2 linked regions of the Homo sapiens genome follow. The protein of the gene in region 2 purifies or fractionates together with the protein of the main gene of each other region. This does not show direct contact. Each region holds a gene or a part of one and is shown on either strand. Other genes may lie near its edges. The genes, in order: EPB41L5 and LAPTM5.

What was found.
Region 1: the proteins of LAPTM5 (region 2) and EPB41L5 purify together in Homo sapiens (affinity purification with mass spectrometry, with the first as the bait; one study listed by BioGRID). This does not show direct contact.

The regions. Positions count from the first base shown.
Region 1 is NC_000002.12:120,089,547-120,093,367, reverse strand, and holds part of EPB41L5 (band 4.1-like protein 5), read right to left. Parts: intron 3,022-3,821; coding exon 2,852-3,021; intron 1,814-2,851; coding exon 1,707-1,813; intron 120-1,706; coding exon 92-119; intron 1-91. UniProt on the Homo sapiens protein: Plays a role in the formation and organization of tight junctions during the establishment of polarity in epithelial cells.
Region 2 is NC_000001.11:30,751,079-30,754,899, forward strand, and holds part of LAPTM5 (lysosomal-associated transmembrane protein 5), read right to left. Parts: intron 1,283-3,821; exon of another isoform or gene 1-1,282. UniProt on the Homo sapiens protein: May have a special functional role during embryogenesis and in adult hematopoietic cells.

The sequences.
Region 1 (3,821 bases), on a different chromosome or scaffold from region 2:
ATTTTGATAGGTCTTAAATATTTGTTTAATGATAGCAACTACATAAATCCCAAATTCTATACCAATTCCTAAGTTGCAAAACATTACTTACCTAAGTTCTTCAGGTTTTGTAGCACATGCTAACAGAAGAAAAAAGATAACACCTCATTAGTTTCATCTTACATGATAAACTGCTGCACTATTCAAAGCAAAACTTTAACTAATTGCTTTACAAGCCATGTTTCACAACCATAAATTTATTTCTTTGAGAAAGGGTCTTTCATGATTTTGTAGAGATAGGGGTGGGTCTCACTACTGTTGCCCAGGCTGGTCTCAAACTCCTAAGAGTTGAGCTTTTGGGCTCAAGCAATCCTCCCACCTTGGCCTCCCAAAGTGCTGGGATTAAAGGTGTGAGCCACCACATTTGGCCCCAACCATAAATCTAAAAACCTTCAATTCACCAAAGTGTTTTGGGATTCACACCATAGAGGCAACAATGGCAATTATTTTCATTTTTCAAATAAAGCAATACAATGCATATATATCTCCTCCTTTTAAACAGAACCAATCTGTAAGCCTCCAGAGTGAGCTGACTGATTATGAATTATCATCAGTGGAAACCAAGAGGAAACTTAGGGTTTTAAAATCATCACAATTCATTTATAGCTGTATATTTAATTTACAGCCACACCAAAACTTATGAGTATAAATCATTTTTATAAAAAAGTCAATACTGCCAAACATCAGATCATTACAGCTGTTTTTGGACAACTGGTGATGACTCTGACAGTGGAAATACTTAAAATTAAATTTGCATTTTAATGCAAATTCATTTTAATGCAAATTCAGTTTAAAACCAAACACAAGGTTTAATTTATTTGTCAAGGTAAATAGTGCTTTTTCTTATATAACTGATCTTAATCAGCAAGTAACAATTATGAATTAGGAAATGTCTATGTATAACAATGATGAATATATTTTAAAATGGTATTTAATACAATCCTTAATATTATAATACAATATGAAATAAATTTTACTTAAAAAAAATTCATCACAAGACAATGTTTTGGCCAGGCATGCCTGTAATCCTTTTAGGATTCGGGAGGCCAAGGTGGGTGGATCACTTGAGGTCAGGAGTTCAAGACCAGCCCAGCCAACATGGCAAAACCCCATCTCTACTAAAAATACAAAAATGAGTCAGGAGTGGTGGCGCATGCCTGTAATCCCAGCTACTCAGGTGGCTGAGACATGAGAATCACTTGAATCTGGGAGGTGGAGGTTGCAGTGAGCTGAGATCATGCCACTGCACTCCAACCTGAGCAACAGAGTGAGACTATCTCAAAATAAATAAATAAATAAATAAATAAATAAATAAATAAAAATGTTTTTAAAAATTCCTAAGGGGATTAAGGGATGTTTTAGAATGAGATCTGTAAGTCAAAAAGGGAGAGAATATGTTGCTCTACAGAAACAGTTTTGTATACAAAAACTGAACATAACCTCAGACTATCATTTGAATTGGGATTAACATAAAGTTTAATCTCTGCTAACAATACAGGCAATTTTTCTCTGTGTATCCCATGAAATTGATTCTGCCAGAAAAGTACTTTAGTTGACTGGAACAGACCTGAGGAGGAGATTCAGGTAACTTCCTCTTATGGAAACAACACCAGCACATAATTAATTGCCAAGGAAAAATAATCCTTTGAAAGAGGGTTGCACTTCACCTTTCATTTGTAGAGTTCGTCTAGAATATCGTTTGCTGGGCCTTCTTTCAAAGGATGTTGATCTTCTTGCTTTATTGGTTTTTGTGGTCTGATACTCTGTTTTCCCACTAAATGAGGCATAACAGAAGTAAGGGAAATTTTAGGTCTACAGTAATAAACACACACAAATAAGACAGTCCACATTCAGGTTCTCCTTAAAAGAATCATCCTAAACTTCATCGCACAGGAACAGCTACTAATAGTCTCGATCTCTCTCTTTACCATATCATTCTTTCGGCTTTTGTGAAATATGCAACAGATTATGTTGGTTTTATTTTTCTCATATGCATGCATATCACCTAAGTACACATTAAATAAGTTTGAAATATCTGTCCTTTTATGGAAACTCCCTCTCTTTCCCATCTACATTCCTCAGTGCAAAGTGTGTAATTAAAAGAATATTTTCAGTTACTTTTTCTAATTGTGATATTCACTTTTCAGTATAATTTTCCAGAAATGTTTTTTAAGACTACTGTCTTATTCTCCTTGATTTCCATTTAAATTCTGTTTAGAAAATGCCTCCTTACTTTTAATATAAGTAGACTACAGTACTACTTCTATTAACTCCACACAATCAACTGGCCACATTATTGGTACAATCCATTCCTTCTTTAACTGATTTCCATGGCATGCAGAAAACTCACAACCAATAATCCACTCTGCAGTAAACCAAAACATTTCTAACTCATGACAACAAACAAGGAGTCATGAGAATAATGACCTTCAGGTTTATAAAGGACCACAAATGTTATCCAGACTAATATCCCATTCAGTGCAAGAAACCCTTTTCTATATGGTATCCAGTGGTGGGTGGAGAGTCCATAAAACTCTTGTTAAATAGATAAACTGGGAGTGGGTTAATATATAAAGTAAACATCCAGAGGGATATAAAAGCCATTATACAATTACTGTTTACGCATCTATTCAAGAAATTATAACCAATAACAATACCACTTTTTCTATTTTATTTTGGCCAATGGAAGACTCTGGCAAACCACCTTATTCCTCTATACCTTAGTTACCATATCTGTAAAAAAGAGAAGATTGGCCTAAATTTTTTGGCCTGTATGCAATGAAAGACAGATAAAACAGCAATTAAAATTAACCTATATCTAAATCGTGATCCTAGTCGAATAAATCCTGATCGATGAGAACTCTTTTGGACGGGGCCTCGAAGGCGGAAGAAAGCATGATGCTCCACAGCACATTTCCATAAATGTTTGCATGCTTTTGGATGATCCAGTCTAAAGACAAATGTATGTTCCTGTTCTTTGCCCTGAAAAAGAAAAGTATATATAAAAGGATGATTACTAATTCAAACAGTCCTATCTCCTATTTCTGAGATACAAACACATCCATGAATAAAGGATCTAGTGTGCTCCCTGAAATTCAGACACTCTTTATAGTATCAACATAATAAGGGCAGAGCTGAAATCAAGTTGCTCATTTTATCAGCCAATACAAAATTATTCCTAGGAGTTATTCCCCTCTACTTACATGATCTCATTTGTGAGAGAGACATAAAATGAGATTTTATCTGCCATTATTTGGGATAACTGTATAATTATAATTTGAGGAATCATATCAGATCTGGCAGTATGCATCAACAGCCCTAAAAATGCTCACATTTTTGTCATAGTAATCACACTGCCATGAGTCTAATTATAATAGTTAACATTCATATAGAAATTTTTCTAAGGATTTCACATAAATTATCTCAATGAGTAGATACTATCATTAGCCCCATTTCATAGATAAGGAAACTGAGGCTCAAAGAAATTAAGCCCAAAATCACAAAGCTATTAAGAAAGAAAACCGGAAATGAACTTAAACATTAGTCTTGCTCCAGAATCTACATACACCTCTAACAACTAAGTTATACTGCCTCTCTGGGGAAAATTATTTCCTAAACATCAAAAGTTATATATGAAGATGTATATTTCCTCAGTCTCATTTATAATAGTAAAACTTGGTACAAACCCTAAACGTCCAAAAAAAGAGAAATGGTCAAGTAAATAGAGGCATATGTAAAAAATTATGCAGAGGGATAAATGAATAAATGATGAATGAATGAAT
Region 2 (3,821 bases):
GGAGGCCTCGGGGCCAGGTTGGCAACAGAGAAGTCTCGGCCAGGCCAGGCTAGGCCCTTCAGCCACTCTCTGGGTGGGATGGGCCATGGGGGCCTCCTGCTTTTAGAAGCTGGGGTTCACACCCCTGAGGTGAGGAGAACAACTCAGTTCTGACACTGAGGAGGGGCTACAACTCCCACCCTGCCCCCACCGGCCTCCTCACCCCTCCGTGAAGCGCACAGAGCTGCAGTGGCAGAGAACGTGGCCTCTCTGTCCAGCCCAGGGGCACTGGACATAAAGGTGGCAAGTTCTAACAGATTCTCACCCAGGGTTTTCCCCACCTGGCAGTTTGGACCCATTTTTCAACCCCAAACAGATGAACTTTCAACAGAGGAGTGGGGCCAGGCACTATGGCCCACGCCTATAATCCCAGCACTTTGGGAGGCTGAGGCTGGTGGATCACTTGAGGTCAGGAGTTCAAGACCAGCCTGGCCAACATGGTGAAACCCCATCTCTCCTAACGATACAAAACTTAGCCGGGCATGATGGCACACACCTGTGATTCCAGCTACTTGGGAGGCTGAGGCACAAGAATCACTTGAACCCGGGAGGCAGAGGTTGCAGTGAGCCAGGATCACGCCACTGCACTCCAGCCTGGGTGATAGAGCAAGACTCAGTCTCAAAAAAAAGGGGCGGGGGGCCTTGTGTTCTTCTTCCACAGCCCACTTCAGGCACTCACCTGCTAGCCCTCCACCCGGCTTCGCTAGGGTCTCCTCCAAATGATCACTTTTGAGGCAGGGACCACTGGCCCCATTTACAGATGAGGAAGGCAAGGCTCAGATAACAAAGGTGCCCGCCTGCTCAAGTCACACTGCTGGTAAGTAATGGAGATGGGCCTGTGTTCCTTTCAATCACAAATCACTGCCCCCAAAGTGGAGCAGAGAAAAGAGCCCCAGGAGTTCTAAGGAGGACAAATCAGGAGAGCTTCCTGGAGGAGGAAGCTTCCCGTAAACTGGACCATAAAGAAGAAATGAATGGTGGGAGGCTGGATGAGGGCAGGGCCTCCCAGACAGACACACCACCCCAGCCATGGGGCAGGGAAGGAACTCATTTGCCCACTTTCTGGATCATTCCACACACCTGTGTGCCAGCAGGGGGACCTGAAGCAAGCTCCTGCCCCATCTCTCCATGTGTCCTGGAGCAAGTAAGGGGCCCTGCTGGACCTGTTTTCCCATCTGCAAAATGAGCTGATAGGCCGAAGAGAGATCCATCTTCTTAGCTCTGAAGCTTGTAAAAGCAAAGGACTCGGGCAGGTCCCACCCCTGGGGACCTCTCCACCCTCCTCCCCGACACACCTCGTGGCCACCCCTCCTAACCCAGCTTGACAAACCTGCTAGGTCTCTGAAGCACTGCAGGGTCCTTCCCCTCCAAGCCTGTGTCATGCTACTCCCCCCGCCCAGCGTGACCTCTTTTCCAAGGTGCCCAAGCAAAGCCCTACTCATCCTTAAGACTCAGACCTCCTCCAAGAAGCTATTCCAGAATCCCAACCTCCAGCCCTACATCTGTGCCCCCATCATAGCCAGCAATGTCATCCATTGTCCTCGTCGGTTTTTCCTTGGCAGACTGGCCCCTCAAGGGCAGAGGCCGTGAATGAGTCAGGGCTGTATCCCGGCCTGGGGCTGGGCACATGGGTGAACTTACCTGCACGAGGTCAGGGCAATAGAGACTCCTTCTTCAAATACTATGATTTGAATGCTTTACCTTTTTTTTTTTTAAAGAGTCTCACTCTGTCAGGCTAGAGCGCAGTGGCGCGATCTCGGCTCACTGCAACCTCCACCTCCCAGGTTCAAGCAATTCTCCTGCCTCAGCCTCCCGCGTAGCTTGGACTACAGGCTCCCGCCATCATGCCCAGCTAATTTTTTGTATTTTTAGTAAAGACAGGGTTTTGTCCTGACCTCAAGTGATCCACCCGCCTCAACCTCCCAAAATGCTGGGATTACAGGCATGAGCCACCGCACCTGGCCGTACTTTTTTTTTTTTCCAATTTAAAAGTAGTATACTTGAGCCACAAAGTAAAGTACCATTGGATTATAACCCAAAGCATACAGTAAAGATCCCTGGGTCCCTGTAATATAAATAAATCATTTATTTATATAATAAACTGGGAGTACAGACAAATCTCCTTGAGAAATTCCAAGTAATTTATGTAGCTACTCTGCCCTCAAGGAGGTGGGGCGGAACTCCCCATTCATCAAACTTGAGTTGCTTGGAGCAGCATAGTGACTTCCTTCTAAAACATACAGCATGGAAAGGAGAAAAAAAGAGTAACTTTACAAAGGAGTAACCTCAGCCGGGGGCTCAAAGTCACCAGCAACAGTGGTAAGTCAAGTTGGCAGAACCTTTTCTTAGTACGATGTTCTGAGACTGGCACATCATCTCTGTGGTCTTCCTCCCAAAAGCACATTCCCAGACTAATCATGAGAAAACCACCAGAGACCCCAGTTGAAGAACATTTGACAAAATGCCTGACAAATACTCCTCGAACTGTCAAGATTATCAAAAACAAGAAAAATCTGAGAAACCATCATACCAAGAGGAACCTAAGGAAGTGTGAAGACTAAATGTAACGCGGCATCCTGGATGCAATCTTGGAACAGAAAAAGGATGTAAGAGGAAAGCTGGGGAAATAGGGGTGAAGCACTGACTTTAATAACAGCCCACGAATATTCATTCACCCATTGCAACAAACGCACCACACTAACGTTGAGACGTTAGCAATAGAGGAACTAGGCATGGGGGACGCAAGAACTATCTGTACTGTGTTTGCAATATTTTCGTAAATCTAAAACCGTTCTAAGTACGTGCTCATTGTACCAAATATGGAAAATACAGAAAAGTAGAAAAAATAGAGCTTTCACTATCCTAGAACCCAAATACATTTCCTCCTCGCCCAGTTTTGACGTATCCTGTTTTGACACTGTTGAAATCATAGCAGGTGTTAAGTTTTTTAACCCAGACAATGCATTTCTGACAGTGGAATTCCGGGCACTCTGGGGAAGAGGGGTCAGGAAGAAAGAGATTTCTGGGCAAAAGTGTCTTCTGGGGGTGTCCACTTTCTACCATCGACTTAGAACGTGCTTCAGGTTGACAAAAAGCCAGGACCCAAGAGACCCAATTTAAGAAATTTCTCTAGACTGGGCTCGGTGGCTCATGCCTGTAATCCCAGCGCGTTGGGAGGCCAAGGCAGGAGAATCACTTGAGGCCAAGGGTTTGAGACCAGCCTGGGCAACATAGTGGGACCCTGTCTCTACAAAAAAAAATATTTAAAATTAGCTGGCCATGGTGGCATGCGCCTGTGATCCTAGCTACTCAGGAAGCTGAGGTGGGAGGATCTCTTGAACCCAGGAGTTCAAGGCTGCAGTGAGCTGTGATGGCACCACTGCATTCCAGCCTGGGTGACAGAGCAAGACCCCATCTCTTAAAAACAAAAACAAAACAAAACAAATCAAACCACAAAAGATGGGCAAGTTACTGAACTTTGAAAAAAAGAATAGATTTTTTAAAAAAAGAAAGAAAGTTTGCTGGGTTCCCAAAGTGTGCAAGTTTGGGTGACCCAGAGAATCCTCTACACAAACCCACTGACATCCTGAGGAAGATGCCCGAGCCCAAAGCTACGGACCAGGCTTCCCTCATGTAATAACGCCCTCATGACTCAATAGAGCGTGGCACTGTCTCAGGATGGCAAGGTCTCAATTTAACCCTCCCTAGAGGGGCCAAGTCCACAAATAGCTCATGATGTGCAGAGTCGTCACCCATGGCTGGGTCCAGATGACAGCCAGCAT